2 separate regions of the Homo sapiens genome follow, and region 2 is linked to region 1. Evidence: fine-mapped expression QTL. Tissue or cell type: whole blood. Region 1 holds a variant in brackets; the other region holds the start of a gene. All regions are shown on one strand. Distances are between the middles of the regions.

Evidence for each region. PIP is the estimated chance that this variant, and not a neighbour inherited with it, causes the effect.
Region 2: SREBF2 starts here. The variant in region 1 is fine-mapped to the expression of SREBF2 in whole blood (TOPMed, PIP above 0.99).

Annotation. Positions count from the first base shown.
Region 1 is chr22:41,888,302-41,896,558 of GRCh38, forward strand. SREBF2 (sterol regulatory element binding transcription factor 2) reads left to right here. Exons shown (of 19, transcript NM_004599.4): 12 at 4,816-4,984; 13 at 6,519-6,636. Among named protein-coding and RNA genes, the nearest start is that of MIR33A, 8.5 kb to the right of the region's middle. The variant A/G (reference allele first, on the strand shown) is at 4,791.
Region 2 is chr22:41,828,437-41,836,436 of GRCh38, forward strand. SREBF2 (sterol regulatory element binding transcription factor 2) reads left to right here and starts at 4,669. Exons shown (of 19, transcript NM_004599.4): 1 at 4,669-4,922. The coding sequence starts at 4,835. CCDC134 (coiled-coil domain containing 134) reads left to right here. Exons shown (of 7, transcript NM_024821.5): 7 at 1-3,728. It overlaps SREBF2-AS1 (SREBF2 antisense RNA 1), which reads right to left and starts at 6,229. Exons shown (of 2, transcript NR_157279.2): 1 at 6,007-6,229; 2 at 1-5,544. RefSeq lists enhancers at 2,116-2,656, 2,657-3,196, 4,023-4,532, 4,138-4,794, 6,585-7,086 and 1 more and silencers at 4,573-4,912, 4,973-5,362.

The DNA.
Region 1 (8,257 bases):
TAATTTTTATAAGAGTTGGAGGTAGGAGTGCAAGATCTGTTTTTCTCCATAAGGATATCTACCTGACGCAGAACCTGTTATTTTAAAAACTATCCTTCCCCTGCTGCACCAAGTGGCACCTTTTTTTCATAAATCAAGGATCCGTGTACCGTGGGTCTGCCTCCAGATCTAGTCTGTTCCACTGCACCATCACCACCCAACCCTAACGGCTGAGTTTTCTCTTACGTCTTGATGTCTGGAAGTGTTGGTCTTCCAGATTTAGTGACTAACGATGAATCTTGGGTGTTTCTTTGTAGCCTCTTCATTCTACAGAGGTACTTGATGCTGCTGATGGACATTTGGGTTGTTTCCAGTATTTGCCGTTATAAACAGTGCTTTAGGGAACATTTTTGTCCATTGTCTTCATGCACCTCCATAAGAGTTTCCTCAGACCAAATCTGTAGAGATGGTGATGCTGTGTCAAAGGATATAAATATTTGAAACTTAATAGTATTACCAAATTTGCATATTCAGTAAGATGGAAAAAGGAGAACTGTCATCTTTAAAGTAACTGCTCTTCTCTGTTTACTTCTCTTGAGAGAGGATAAAGAGACTCAGACAGTACTTTCTTATAAAGGAAGAAGCTTTGAATTTGGTGAGATATATTTAGCTACAAATGAGCCAGTTGTTGGGGGCAAGTGGAGGGCTGGCCTCTGTGAAAATGGTTTAGACTAGAGGTTCCCAAACTTGCTCAACTCATGACTCAAGATTCCCAAACATTCTCTACTCACTATGTCTCAGTAAATTTTTCATGGCATCCCTTAGCCAAAAGAAATACCTAACGGTTCTGGTTTTCGTTTTTTGAAACAGTGTCTTGCTCTGTTGCCCAGGCTGGAGTGCAGTGGTGCAATCACGGCACACTCTAGCCTCAACCTCTCTGGGCTCAAGTGATCATCCCACCTCACCCTCCCGAGTAGCTGGGACTGCAGGTATACACCACCACACCGAGCTTATTTTTGTATTTTTTGTAAAGTCAGGGTTTTGCTATGTTGCTCAGGCTGGTCTCGAACTCCTGGGCTTAAGCGATCTGCCCACCTCAGCCTCTCAAAGTGCTGGGATTATAGGCATGCACCACCGCGCCTGGCCTCTGTTAAGTAGTTAAGTTTGAACATCCTAATAGGTATTTAAATTGTCTTAACAGCTTAGTGGTCATTTGAAAAAATCATATGTCAAGTTGAAAGAAGAAATAATATTTTTTGCTAGGAGTGGTAGCACACACCTGTGGTCCCAGCTCCTCAGGAGACTGAGGTAGGAGAATCTCCTGAAACCACGAGTTTGAGGCTGCAGTTAGCTATGGTCACACCTGTGAATAGAGCCACTCCACTCCAGCCTGGACAACATAGTGAGACCATGTCTCTATTAAAAAAAAAAAAAAAGAGGTTGGGCACGGTGGCTCATACCTGTAATCCCAGCACTTAAGGAGGCTGAGGCGGGTGGATCACCTAAGGTCAGGAGTTTGAGACCAGCCTGGCCAACATGATGAAACTCCGTGTCTACTAAAAATACAAAAATTAGCCAGGGATCGTAGCACGCACCTGTAATCCCAGCTACTCGGAAGGCTGAGACAGAATCACTTGAACCCAGGAGTCAGAGGTTGCCGTGAGCCGAGATTGTGCCACTGCACTCTGGGTGACAGAGCAAGACTCTGTCTCAAAAGAAAGAAAGAGAGAGAATATTTTGGATTCTTAATAATTTCTTAGAAATCATGGTTATTAAGAATCCAAAATATTCTTTTATTTATTTATTTATTTTTTGAGATACAGCCTCACTCTGTTGCCCAGGCTGGAGTGGAATGGCTCTTCACAAGCATGGTGTCACTGTTTCTTACCAATACATGAACCTGTCAAGCACTGCACACCTCAAGCTTTGGAATCAGACTAGCAACCATCACTCTCTCTCTTTTCCACATTGATTTTCACACAGTACTATGACAGATATCACATCTCCAAAGGAAGCTAGTGTGGTCTCAATGCTGAGGCTGCATGCTCTCCCCATCTAGTCACTTACAGTGCCCAGCTGATGTTGAGCATCACTGTTTTCCTCGAAAGTTTAAAATAGCCAGTGGCTCCCTTGATCACTTGCTGTGGCACCTCAGACTGCCTTGGCACACGATTTGAGAGCCATGGGGTTAGACCGATGTTAGGGGACACAACCTGGGGTTGGGACTGGCCCAGGGATACTGAGTGGCTCTCAGGATCTAAACAGTTGTGGGGTTCTTGCCACAGCCTCTTTCACATCAGGCAATTAGCAGATGAGTTACAGGGGGAGGCTCCTAGGCCCCAGTTGGGGAAGATTCTGGTGTCTATAAAATTTAGGAAAACTTAAAAAAAAATTTTTTTTTTTTTGGCTTGGGATTACAAGCCAAGCCACCAGCGTGGCCAAGATGGTGAAACCCTGTCTCTACTAAAAATATAAAAATTAGCTGGGTGCGGTGGCGGGTGCCTATAATCCCAGCTACTTGGGAGGCTGAGGCAGGAGAATTGCTAGAACCCAGGAGGCGGAGGTTGCAGTGAGCCAAGATCACACCACTGCACTCCAGCCTGGGTGACAGAGCAAGACTCTGTCTTTAAAAAAAAAAAGAAAAGAAAAGAATTAAGCTTAAAATACATTTTTACTTAGTGATTTCCACATTTGCCTTTCTGGTTCCTCTTGCCGTATGACCTGGACTAGGCTTTGCTTCTACTTGTAACATTTGGGCCCTCGTGAGGGACCAGTTGGTCCTCAGTTTCTCCTGGAGCAGCCACCAGGCTCCCTTGCTGATTGGACATGTGGAATTGGCTGTTCTTGGAAAGAGAGTTGGAGTCAACCGTTCAAATGTTCTGGGACCTCCGAAGCCCAGGAATCACGCCACCACCCCCCAATCTCCCTCCCTGCTCAGCTCCTCAACTGCTATTCTCCCACCATTGCAGTTATCAGCTCAGATTCAGTGAGTGCTTTGTGGAAGGTTGGCAGAGGGTCGCGAGGGTCCTCTACATTTGTTCTCCAGTATCCAGTATCAACACTGGTTACCAAAGAGGAAGGACGGACTATTGGTGCCCCTGGTCCCAGTGATTAGAAATGTAAGTGAAACACCCCACCTCATCTCATAAGCTGCTTTGAGATTATGAGTATGTGTCTATAGAACAGGTTGTTTTCTCTCAGACTCAGGCAGTGTCTCCAGGTTCCCCCTGGAGAGAGATAGTCTTCTCTGTCTGTGTCCTCGAGTGGCACTCTGACAGTGCTATTTCTGACCCTGGCATTCAAGTCTTCTGAAGCCGTTACATTCGCTGATGGCTACTTAGAGCCCAGTAAAGGTCAGAACCATCAGACTGAACCAGACCATGAAACAGCGCTGCTCCTGTGGGGGCGAGGGCTGGGGTGTGGAAGCGATGTCTGCGGGCCTCGGCCTGGCAGCCCCGCCCCTGGGCTCCCTGGGCTTTCTATCTTATGCTTCTCCCTCCCTCCTGTCTTCTGTCCTCAGTTCCTCACTCACCCTGGCCTGTTTCGGGGAGTGGTTATGGGTTGGAAGTCATGGGTGTTAGTGTGAAAATACCCTCACTCAAAAAGTGACAGAACTGAAAACGTGGTAGATGGTATTGTCCCTGCAGTTCTTGTCAGTGGGGTCCTGGAATGATGTTATCCCGGCAAGTGGAGGAGGGGCCCAGTGACCGGGGCCCTGGCTCTTTGAATTGTCCCACAAAGAGGCTTTCCAGGTTCCCCCTCTGTTCTTTCTCGCAGGCTGGTGTTCACATCAGGGGCTCATGCAGGGGTGCCATGGGGTTTCTGTAGGGGGCCGCCCTTGCAGGGCCAGCTTTGTGGGGGGAGTCTCTCAACCACCTGCACACAGATACTTGCCTGTACAGGGCCTGGGCTGTCCTCCCAGCTGCCCCTTCACTCCAGTGCCATCTGATGTGACCCTGACGGCTGGCCATGTGCCGAGCACTGTTCTAAACTTTACACGCAAAGTAAAAGTAAAAGAAAAATTAGTCAAAGCAGAATAATTTTGCCTAAAATAGTCTAAAAGATATGTAATTAAAATGACATGATGGGCCAGGCACGGTGGCTCACGCCTGTAATCCCAGCACTTTGGGAGGCCGAGACGGGCGGATCACGAGGTCAAGAGATCGAGACCATCCTGGCTAACACGGTGAAACCCCGTCTCTACTAAAAATACAAAAATTAGCCGGGCATGGTGGCGCGCGCCTGTAGTCCCAGCTACACGGGAGGCTGAGGCAGGAGAATGGCGTGAACCCGGGAGGCAGAGCTTGCAGTGAGTCGAGATCGCGCCACTGCACTCCAGCCTGGGCGACAGAGCGAAACTCCGTCTCAAAAAAAAAAAAAAAAAAAAATGACATGATAAAAAGTCCCAGGATAGAAGGGGCTGCCTGGCTTGGCACTCTCGGGGCCGAGGGGAAAGTACAGCAGCCAGGGGGCCCCTGAGACCCCTCCTTGGGAAACCGCCTTCCTAGTTTACCCTGCAGGTTGAATGCCAGTAGGATCAGGCAGCCCCAGCAGGACAGGATGCAGCAGGGGCCCCACGCGTGCCTTGTGGCTGCTCCCTGCCCTCCTGCTGGGATGTGGACCTAGTCAGCAAGTCCAGCACACTCTACTGGTGGGCTTGCCCTAGTTTCCATGGTGGGCTTTACTTTCAGGTACCTGTGGGAGTCCTATCCCTGTGCTGATCTTTCCCAGTCTCCCCCAAAGCCCACCTCCACCATGGTGCTTTCTGCACCCCACAGTGGCTGCAGCCAGCATTCTGCCACCTTGGTGTT[A/G]CCCCTGGTCCTTGTCCTTCCACAGAGCTACTTCCTCAGCCGAGCCCAGAGCCTGTGTGGCCCCGAGCACAGTGCTGTTCCTGACTCCCTGCGCTGGCTCTGCCACCCCCTGGGCCAGAAGTTTTTCATGGAGCGGAGCTGGTCTGTGAAGTCAGCTGCCAAGGAGAGTCTATACTGTGCCCAGAGGAACCCAGGTGAGAATACCTTGGAGCCATTCAGAATTGGAGAAAGCCATGCAAACCGCCGGTACTACAGAGTCACTGCACCAGACACGCGGAGACACGGGTTGTCTCTTAATCTTGTTGAGTCCGTTTGTTTGTTTGTTTGTTTGTTTGTTTGAACCAAAGCTCAGGGAGGTTGAGTAACTTGCTTAAGGTCACAAGCCTGATCAGAAATTGTCAGTGGCTAAGCTGGGTGTGCAGCTCTGCTCTCTCTAACATTCAGAGCCCATGGTCCTTACATCACACAGCAATAAATTGTGATTAAGCTCCAAGGGTACTCTTAGCCCTTGTTTTGGGCACTTTGGAGACACAAAGGATGTGTGAGGCTTGCTTTCCCTGGCCTCCAGGTCTCTCCCATTGGGAGAGCAGACAGACATAAATGGAGAGTTTGGGAACAATAGGTGGCAGGCAGTCATCAACTGCTCAGAGTGGTGACAGGGACGAGGCTTCAGGCATTGGAAGGAGGTGCTGGCTTTCTGTCCCTGGCATTTGATAGTGATTGGAGTTGACTCGCCCGGCCTTGGAGCAGTAGAGGCTGGTCAGGATTGACTTAGACCTTGAGTGCTCAGTGGCTGTCTGCTTTCTGCTGTACTTTTCCTCCCCTCTCAGAATTGGAGTCTGTGGGGAGAGTAAGGTTCTACAGGTATAGGGGTGTGTGTCACACATTGGGGGAGTTCACTGTCCTTTTCTTTTTTAAATAATAACTGTATTGCTCAACGTGAGAATTGTGTGCAACACCAAAATATAAAGGATGAAAGCAAAAGCAATCCTAAATCTTTCTACCCCACCCCTGCTGGCTAAACATGGACTTCTCAGTGGCTTTGTCATCTCTGGCAGTCTCTGGCTCCAGGCCTTGTTACTTGGAATGTGTTCATAAGTGTCCCTCCTCCTGGTCATTAGATCGAGGCCCACATATCTGCCACATGTGAGGAGAGAGAAGGGGCTGGTGATTTGAGGCCTGCCAGTAAAGAAACTTGCTGGTGACAGTCAGCTATCCAAGCATTGCAAGGCCCCGTGTCTAGCCAGTTCAGACAGGTCACTGCTGATGGCACGTTCCATGACAAGGCTCTGGAAAAACCGGAGCATGTTCTTCGTTGTCATGAGCGTGGCAGCAGCTACCACCTTTTTTTCCTTGCCTGGTGGTTCTCCTTAGCCACATGGAGAAGAGAAATCCTCTGAGACATTCCATTTTCTGTTTTCTGATCCAACTCCACCTGACAGCTCCCAACCTTAGAGTACTGAGCACTGTGCCAGGAGACACAGCACCCTCCCCCACACCCCCTCCCCACCGGAGCTCATCCAGAACTAGTCTTGAGCTCTTCAGGCTGGGAGTGAACACTCTCCCCCATCCTCCAACTGTTTAGCACAGTAGTTCTGGGCTTTGGTGGAGAAGGGGCATCTGATCCCCATTCACAAGGCATGGCTGTGTTTGGAGTTTCTCTCCGTAAAGACAAAGTGGGCTCATAAATGAGCTCCATTTAACCCCCCTTGCCTGTCTCTTTTCCAGCTGACCCCATTGCGCAGGTCCACCAGGCCTTCTGCAAGAACCTGCTGGAGCGAGCTATAGAGTCCTTGGTGAAACCTCAGGCCAAGAAGAAGGCTGGAGACCAGGAAGAAGAGAGCTGGTAAAGTCCCCAGACCAGTCCCCCTGCCTTAGGACCTGTCCACGCAGGCAACTCCAGGACAGCCTGAAGGCCTGCACTCCTGGAGGGAAACAAGCCTGGCATCGGGTTGGCAGGGCAATCAAATGGTTCCTTTGTATTTAATTTCTCAAAAATGAGAGCCCTATGTTAACTCTGACCTGGCCTTTCCTCCTAGACCAAGTGCGTTTTTTTTTTTTTTTTGGAGACGGAGTCTCGCTCTGTCACTCAGGTTGGAGTGCAGTGGCGCAATCTTGGCACACTGCAAGCTCTGCCTCCTGGGTTCACGCCATTCTTCTGTGTCAGCCTCCTGAGTAGCTGGGACTACAGGCGCCTGCCACCATGCCCGGCTAATTTTTTGTATTTTTAGTAGAGACGAGGTTTCACCATGTTAGCCAGGATGGTCTCGACCTCGTGATCCGCCTGCCTCAGCCTCCCAAAGTGCTGGGATTACAGGCGTGAGCCACCATGCCCAGGCCTTTTTTTTTTTTTTTTTTTTTGAGATGGAGTTTCGCTCTTGTTGCCCAGGCTGGAGTGCAATGGACCAGTCTCAGCTCACTGCAACCTCTGCCTCCCGGGTTCAAGTGATTCTTCTGCCTTAGCCTCCCAAGTAGCTGGGATTACAGGCGCCCACCACCATGCCTGGCTAATTTTTGTACTTTTAGTAGAGATGAGGTTTCACCATGTCATTCAGGCTGGTCTTGAACTCCTGATCTCGGGCAATCCGCCTGCCTCGGCCTCCCAAAGTGCTGGGATTACAGGCATGAGCCACCACGCCTGGCAGGTGCACCCATTTTTATGTATCCCTTTACCAAGCGGAGTCAGTACTTGGACCAAGTCAGGGATTTCATTAGCTTGCTCTGCTTTTTGGGGTAGGGAGCAGGGGCCTGTTGAAAGGGGATGGGGGCTGGGTGCAGTGGCTCACGTCTGTAATCCCAGCACTTTGGGTGGGAGGCCAAGGTGGGCAGATCACGAGGTCAGGAGATCGAGACCATCCTGGCTAACACGGTGAAACCCCGTCTACTAAAAATACAAAAAATTAGCCAGGCGTGGTGGCGGGCGCCTGTGGTCCCAGCTATTCCGGAGGCTGAGGCAGGAGAATGGCATGAATCCGGGAGGCGGAGCTTGCAGTGAGCCAAGATTGCGCCACTGCACTCCAGCCTGGGTGACAGAGCTAGACTCTGTCTCAAAAAAAAAAAAAGAAAGGGGATGGGAATGAAATGTGACGAGCTCAGCAGAAGGCAGACACATCTGGCCTGGACATCTTGGGGACCCAGCCCCTCATGGAATGTGCCGGGCAATTTTTCTCTCTGACATACTTACTGAGCACAGTCCTTCTTTCACAGAGTAAGACCTGAGAGGCAGATAGGTGCCAAAGTCACTTTTGTTTTTTGTTATTTTTGTTTGTTTTTTGGGGGGTTTTTTGAGACAGTGTCTCACTCTGTCACCCAGGCTGGAATGTAGTGGTACAGTCTTGGCTCACTGCAACCTCTGCCTCCTGGGTTCAAGCGGTTCTCCTGCCTCAGCCTCCCAAGTAGCTGGAATTACAGGCACGCGCCACCATGCCCGACTCATTTTTGTATTTCTTGGTAGAGGCAGAGTTTCA
Region 2 (8,000 bases), 60 kb before region 1:
TCATCTGCCCCTTCTGGCACCTCCTTCCTCCTGGGCTCTTTCCTCTAATACCGTCATCCTCTCTCCAACCTGGTTAATCCTGTCCTTTCTGCCCTCAAATGGGCACCTTCAAAGAAACAAATAGAACTACTCCACTCGCTCCCTCTCTCCCTCCCTTTACTGCCACTATTGATTGTTATAGTCACTTGCTCCAGGAAGTCCACTTGCTGAGTCTTACTGCAGACAGAGCCCACCCCCTGAGCTGTAAAGGCCCTAGGGCACATGTTTGTCCAGCTGCCTCTTGCAGCTGGGATTGTTAGGTCACTATAGCGCTACCAACTGCATATACCACTGTGGGAGTCGTGCTGGTGGCGGTAGTGGTCACAGGTACCAGGGGCAGCAGTGAAGGGGTGGCTCTAATGCCAAGTCCAGTGACCAGTGCCAGGGTGCCCAGTGGTGGCAACAGTGGTGTTTTCAGTGTGATCTTGGACATTGCTCCTGTCTACTCAGCTGCTAGTCTGTGAGCTCCCTGATATCCTTTAAGACAGCGTTTTCCAGCAGCGGCACTATTAACGTTTGGGGCTAGGTAATCGTTGGGTGTGTGAGTGTGAAGAGGGCTGTCCTGTGTGTTGTAGGCTATTTTAGCAGCATCCCGGCCTCTCCCTGCCAGGTGCCTGTAGCAGTCCCCCAGTTACGACAACCAAAAATGTGTCCAGACATTGCCAGATGTCCACTGGGAGGGAAAACCTCTCTGGTCCACAGCCCTTCTCCTTATTCCAGTCCCACATCTTCCTCCCCTTCCCCATCACTGTCCTCAGAGAGATGCTGTTGACAGCTCCTTGAGGTGATTCTCTCAGGCTTGTTGTTGTAGTTCTCTGCTGTCAAGTCTGAGCTGACTCTCTCTTCCGGATTCTTCTTTCCTCACCTGCCCCCGTTTGCATGAAGTTTTTTATGGAGCTGTTTCTATTTTCTTTTTGGGCAGCCATACTCTCTAAGACCTAAAAGCTGAATACTCGCCCGGTTACTACCTGATAATTCTCATCGCTTATGTTTCCAAAACCAAACTGGTTATTTCCCTCTCTAACCCCATCTCTGTGTCAAACAGTGGAGTACATGCTTTTGGTTAATCCAATTGGAAGGCTTCCTAGAGGAAGTAATATCTGAACTGAATCCTGAAAGATTAGGGGAAGAGGAAGAAAAGGACAGGTGCTGTGGGAAAAAGGGGAAAGTGTCAGAGGAAGTAAATGAAAAACCATATACAAAATTATCTTCTGTGACCCGTAGCACATGCCCAATCCATGGTAGATATCGAAACATAGTGGTTACCCAGTCTAATCCATCCCTTTTCTTTCTTTCTTTCTTTTTTTTCTTTTTTTTTGAGACAAGTCTCACTTTGTTGCCTGCCTGGAGTGCAGTGGTGCGATCTCGGCTCACTGCAACCCCCGCCTCCCGGGTTCAAGTGATTCTTCTGCCTCAGCCTCCTGAGTAGCTAGGACTACAGGTGCTTGCCACCATGACCAGCTAATTTTTGTATTTTCAGTAGAGATGGGTTTCACCATATTGGCCAGGATGGTCTCGATCTCTTGACTTCGTGATCTGCCTGCCTCGGCCTCCTAAAGTGCTGGGATTACAGGCGTAAGCAACCGTGCCCGGCTGTCCATCTCTTTTCAGATGAAGAGCTCAGGTTCTGAGGAGTGACTTGTCAAAAGCTGTTCTACCTCTCAGAGCCAGCCCTTGTCCTCCTGCTAGCCAGAGCAAGGTACCACCTGGAAGAGATGTTCAGTTACATGGGATCCAGGGCCAGAGGGAAAATATCAGTGCTTCCTGAGGTTCGGGTCCAGCCACCCTTCTTCCACCATTTCTACTGAGCCTTCAGTTGTACCCCTTCAGTCCACTTGGCGAGGCATCACGCCCTCTGGGCAGGCTCAGTGGGGAACTATGGGAGCAGGTGCTGTGTGCCACCTCTGGAGGGGGTCACTGAGGTTCTGGGTTGTGGGGGGTGCCCTGGGCCAGAGTGAGTTGTATGGGAGTTGTTGCTGAATCCCCCCAGAGTACCAGTCACACACCAGTGTGAGGGGCCTTGCAAGAGCCACTGGGCAGCACAGTTGAAGGTGGCACCTTCCTGCTCAGTGCTGTGTCCAGAGCAGGGTTTAGTTTTCTGTGTCTTTCAGGGTGAGACTGGTGTATTCTATACCAGCCTCCCTGTGTGTGAACAATGACGAGAACAATGTTGTCTTGCTTTCCCAAAAAATAAGACACTATCTATTTCTCATTAGTTATACACGTTCATTATAAAACGTAATTTAAGCAATACTGAAATGCCAAAAAGAAAGTAAAATTCACTCCAAAAGTAAAATTCACCCCAAATCTCACTACTCCTGTAACTATGTCTGACAGCCAGCTGTTGGGTCTTCCATCGTTTTTAACCTTCAGGTGAGCACACAGATCCTTATTTTTTCTTTTCTTTTCTTTTTTTTTTTTTTTTTTTTTTGAGACGCAGTCTCCTGTTGCCCAGGCTGGAGTGCAATGGCGCGATCTCTGCTCACCGTAACTTCTGCCTCCCGGGTTCAAGCAAGTCTCCTGCCTCAGCTTCCTGAGTAGCTGGGATTACAGGCATGCACCATCACGCCTGGCTAATTTTTGTATTTTTAGTAGAGACGGGGTTTCACCAAGCTGGCCAAGCTGGTCTCGAACTCCCGACCTCAGGCAATCCGCCCACCTCAGCCTCCCAAAGTGCTGGGATTACAGGCGTGAGCCACCTTGCCCGGACTCTCTTTGTATTTTTTCTTTCTTTTTTTTGAGACAGAGTCTTGCTCTGTCTCCCAGGCTGGAGTGCAGCGACATGATCTCAGCTCACTGCAGCCTCTATCTCCCAGGTTCCGGCAGTTCTCCTACCGGTTAGCTGGGATTACAGGCATGCGCCACCACACCCGGCTAATTTTTGTATTTTTAGTAGAGACGGGGTTTCACCATGTTGGTCAGGCTGGTCTCCAACTCCTGACCTCAAATGATCTGCACACCTCGGCCTCCTAAAGTGCTGGAATTACCGGTGTGAGCCACCGCGCCTGGCCAGATCCTTATTTTTTCAATTGCAATACAGCAGTATGCAAGGCACTTACTGTATGCCAAAGCTTATGCCGAGAGCTGGCTGCCAGCAGCTCCTCCTGCCTCGAGGCCTTTGTCCATGTCATCATTTCCCCTTTGGCTGTAACAGCTGCAGTTCTCTCATAATTTTAGGTTTCATCTTAAATGTCACTTCTTCAGAGGCTTCTTGACAGCACAAGTCAGGGCCCTTGTTAGTTTCATCACATCCATTACCTTTCCTTGATCACTTGTACCATCATCTGTAATTTATTTTTATGTTTAATACGGGTGTGGGATTTCTGATTTTTTTTTTTGCTAGACTGGAAGCTCTCAGAGGGCAGGAACCATTTGTTTCCCTGCCACAGAGATGTTCAATAAATATTGTCAATTGAATGTGCAAATAATCTCACTTAACCACAGCTATGAGGGATGCTATTTTATCCCCATTTTAGAGATGACTAAACTGAGGCTTAGAACAATTAACCCAAGGTCACAGTGAATTAGTGGATCCATGTGTCTGCCTCCACACAGCCTGTGTGTTCTTAATTATTGATCACTAAGCAACAGCTGCCTCTCACAAACTGGCAGGAAACTTCAACTTTTCCCTTTTATCAATATATTGTGAACGCCTTTTCTTGCTAATAAATATACATTTGTGTGCGTAATTTTTAATGATCCCATGGTATTCCATCGTGTGGATGTAATTTACATATTCATTTCCTTATTCTCACTTCTTCCTAGTTACAGCACTTCTTTAAGCACTTGTAATTTTTATTCCTTTGGATAAATTCCTAGAAGTTTACAACACGACCAGCTGCAAGATGGGGCAGTGAGGTGCTTGAAGGAGTGGGTGGGCTGCACTTCAGAATCCCGGTGGAACTTTTTCAAAAAACTCGTGCCCGGGGCCCCCCTCTCAGGAGGCCGTCGGTGGGCCTGGGCACTGGCGTGGTTTTCAGGTCCTCAGTGGTTCCGAGGTGCCAGAGATTGAGGACCACTGGAGTAAGCGCGAGGTCACGGCGGGTGCAAAGCAGAAGACGTAAAATCCTGACCGCCCTGGGACAATCTGCAACCTTGTCAAGCCTCCGTGCCCGCCTTTGTAAGGAGGCTGGGAGAAGCGGGACTTGGATGACCCGGACTCCCGTCCCGAGCGCTGGGGTCCAGGTTTGACTCCGCTGGCTTTCTCAGGCGGGCAGGGCGGGGGTAGGCAGCTGGGAAGATGACGTAATGTGCTCCCAGCCAGGCCTGGAGGCGGCCAGCGGTCGCAGGTGGAGGGTGGCCTGTTAACCCTTCACTCCCAGGCCAGTGGACGGACTTGCGTGTGGCGCAGATCCAACGGAGAAGGCAGCGGCTCCTTTAAACAAGGCGGAGAAGGTTAAGATGATGACCGGACGGCTACTCCAGGCATTCGCTCCGAGGCCGCGGGGGGAGGGACCTCACTATGCAAATCTGAGCTGCTGATCGATGACGCGCCATCACCCCACGCACCGCTTCGCTCGCCCATTGGCTGAGATGAGCCTGGTCCCATTGACAACAAACAGGGGGGCGCGCGGCCTGGAGGCGGGGCCGCAGGGGGCGCGGGCTGGGGCGGGGGAATCCCGCCCCGCCCTTTCTGTGCGGCGCCCGGGCGCAACGCAAACATGGCGGCGGGTGGCACCCGTCGGTGAGGCGGTGCCGGGCGGGGGTTGTCGGGTGTCATGGGCGGTGGCGACGGCACCGCCCCCGCGTCTCCCTGAGCGGGACGGCAGGGGGGGCTTCTGCGCTGAGCCGGGCGATGGACGACAGCGGCGAGCTGGGTGGTCTGGAGACCATGGAGACCCTCACGGAGCTGGGCGACGAGCTGACCCTGGGAGACATCGACGGTGAGTGGTGGGTGGGTGGGAGTGCGGGGGCCGCGCGGGGAGGAAGGGGTTACGGCGGCGCGCCCGGGTGCGCGTGCGCCCACCCCCCGACAGCCCCGGTTCGCGCGGGAAGAACCCCGTGCGCACGGTGCCCCCGGCGGTCCTCAACCCTTCCGGCGCTGCGAGCGTGAGCCCGACCCAGCTGCGCCGCTCCGGGAGGCCGTGGGATCTGGGGCGCCGCGGGGCCGAAAGCGGCGCGAGGGTCGCGGGTTCCAGAGCGCGGGGCTAGGGACGTCGCGGGGGCGTCTCAGGGAGCGGCCTAAGGAGAGCGCGTGGCCGCCGCCTCCCTCGCGCGCCCACACGCGGTTTCCGTGGTCCGCTCTCCCGCCGCCCGCGACCGCGCGTCGCACCTGTCACTCCCTTCCTGGCCGCGGGGACGTCTTTGGGATTCCCGGGGCCCAGCCCCCAGTCTCCGCGCCCCGAATCCCTGGGCTTCTCAGGATTGACCGACGGCCAGGTCGCCGGGTGCTCCGCGAAACTTTGGGCAGCGACTGCAGAAGCAAGTTGCTGATGAAGAGAGCAGTGGCGGCGGAGTGTGGACACATCTCTCCGGGATGGAGACCCGGGCGCTCCTGCTGTCACGCTGCAAGGGGAATTGAGCAGAAGAAATTTTGAGTTGTGGCCCCTCGGGTACGGGCTGGGGAGCGGGTGGCCTTTGTTCCAGCGCCTTAACAGCGGAGTGGAAGAGCTGGTAGGAGCCCAGGGATCCACTCTTAAAATACTAATTTTGCGACCACGGGAACAACGATTTGGAGAGGGTCAGCGGCTTGCTCAAGGTCACCCAGCTGGTTAGAGCCTAGTTCTTGCAGTTCCTTGGCCAGTATTGGTTTTTTTATACCCCTCCTTTCAAGAAAGAGTCCAGTTGACTAGGCTAGTAATCTTATTAACTGGATAGTTGCACTCTTATGTTTAGGCCCCAAAATGCTTTGTATTATTTCACTTCTTCCTCACAACAATCCTGTGAGATACTCTTATTACCTCTATTTTAATACGGTAATTAAAGAAGCCGAGGCCAGGAGATGTTGACTTATCTAAGGCCACTCACCTTAGAGAGCTTAGGCAGAAACACAGGTGCATTGTACTTTTCAGTTTTCAGAATGCTTTCATGTCCAGGATCTCACTACAGCCTTGCAGGCATGTATGATGGCTACATCCCCGTTGTGCAGATGAAGAAGCAGAAGCAGCAGAAGATTCTCTTTTGGGGGAAGAGATAAATGCAGCAGCTAATTGAAAAGGATCTGTTTGCCATTTTCCCATTTTGCTTTTGTAATATTTCTCCCCTTGGTTTGTCCTTGATTTCCATTTTGGTCATGTGGGCAGTGTGATAAGACCCTTAATTGAAGCCCCAGTTCTAACCACAGACTCTTTGCTAAGTGCTTCTAAATACAGAAATGGGTTAACAAATGGGGGATGGGGTAGGTGGGGGTTGGGAACATAGCAAGGGCAGCTAACATGTTTTGAGAACTTCTGTGCCAGACGGTGTTAAACAGTTATACACGTTAATGTTCTCAATCTTCCTAACAACCCTGTCAGGTAGAGAGAACTGTTATACTTGTCATCTCCCTCTCACTGATCCTGAAAGTGAGGCCCAGGGTGGTTCATTAATTTACTGAAGATTACACAGCCAGTAGAAAGTACTGTATGTCTATAGCTGCCTACCTGCAAGGGCACAGAAAGAAATTCATGTGCATTTTGCATTCCTATTCCATGATCAATTCCTATTTGTCTTATTTTGTTTATCTGATTTTTAAATTTAAATTTTTATTTATTTAGTTATTTTTTGAGACAGGGTCTCATTCTGTCACCCAGGCTGGAATGCAGTGGCACAATCATAGCACAAACTCTTAGGCTCAAATGATCCTCCTGCCTTGGCCTCCCAAAGTGCTAGGATTACAGGTGTGAGCCACCTAAATTTTTTTTTTTTTTTTTTGAGATGGAGTTTCGCTATTGTTGCCCAGGCTGGAGTGCAATGGCGCGATCTCGGCTCACCGCAACCTCCACCTCCCGAGTTCAGGCGATTCTCCTGTCTCAGCCTCCCGAGTAGCTGGGATTACAGGCATGCGCCACCACGCCCGGCTAATTTTGTATTTTTAGTAGAGACAGGGTTTCTCCATGTTGGTCGGGCTGGTCTCCAACTCCCAACCTCAGGTGATCCGCCCACCTTGGCCTCCTAAAGTGCTGAGATTACAGGCATGAGCCACTGTACCTGGCCGAGCCACCGTGCCTGGCCGAGCCACCTAATTTTTTTTAGAGACAGTGTCTGGCTGTTGCCCAGGCTGGAGTGCAGTGGCACAATCATAGCTCACTGCAGCCTTGAACTCTTGGGCTTAAGCAATCCTCCCAGCTCAGCTTCCCGAGTAGTTAGGACTAAGGCATGTGCCACCACACCTAGCTAATTTATATATATATGGTAGAGCCAGTCTCACTGTGTTGCCCAGGCTAGTCTTCAACTTCCAGGCACATGCAGTCCTCCTGTCTTGGCCTCCCAAAGTGCTGGGATTACTGGCATGAGCCACTGTACCCGACCCTGTCTTAATTTGTAATGAGTTTAAATTACCTAGTGGTTAATACTGTCTTTATCCCCACAGATTTCTGAATAAAATGGAAACTACCACCCTCTGGAAACTACCACAGTGGTTCAGTGGCTTCATAGGTCCATTAGGTTTGATCCCAGTGGAAGAAGATTCCATTTCTCTGTCCTTCCAGAAGACCTGGTTTATAACAGTGCATAAGGCTTTTTCTCAAAATAGTTATATACCGCACAAGGAAGAGGTGTGGCTGTTGTGTCACAGGAGACCTAGGGGCCAGGTTTGGGAAAAGTGGTTCCATGTCTTCAGTTGATCAACAAGTATTCAAGTGCTGGCTGTGGTTTCTGAGCTGTAAGGAATCGTGAAAGATAGCATAGAATTTTATGGCTTCATGGAGCTTGAGATGAGAAACTCTAGTGCCAGTATGGAACAGCTTAAAATTGCACAGCACAACAAGTAAAAGTCAGCAGTGAGGGTAGCTTGGTAAAGGCTGGCTTAGCAGGAAGACCAC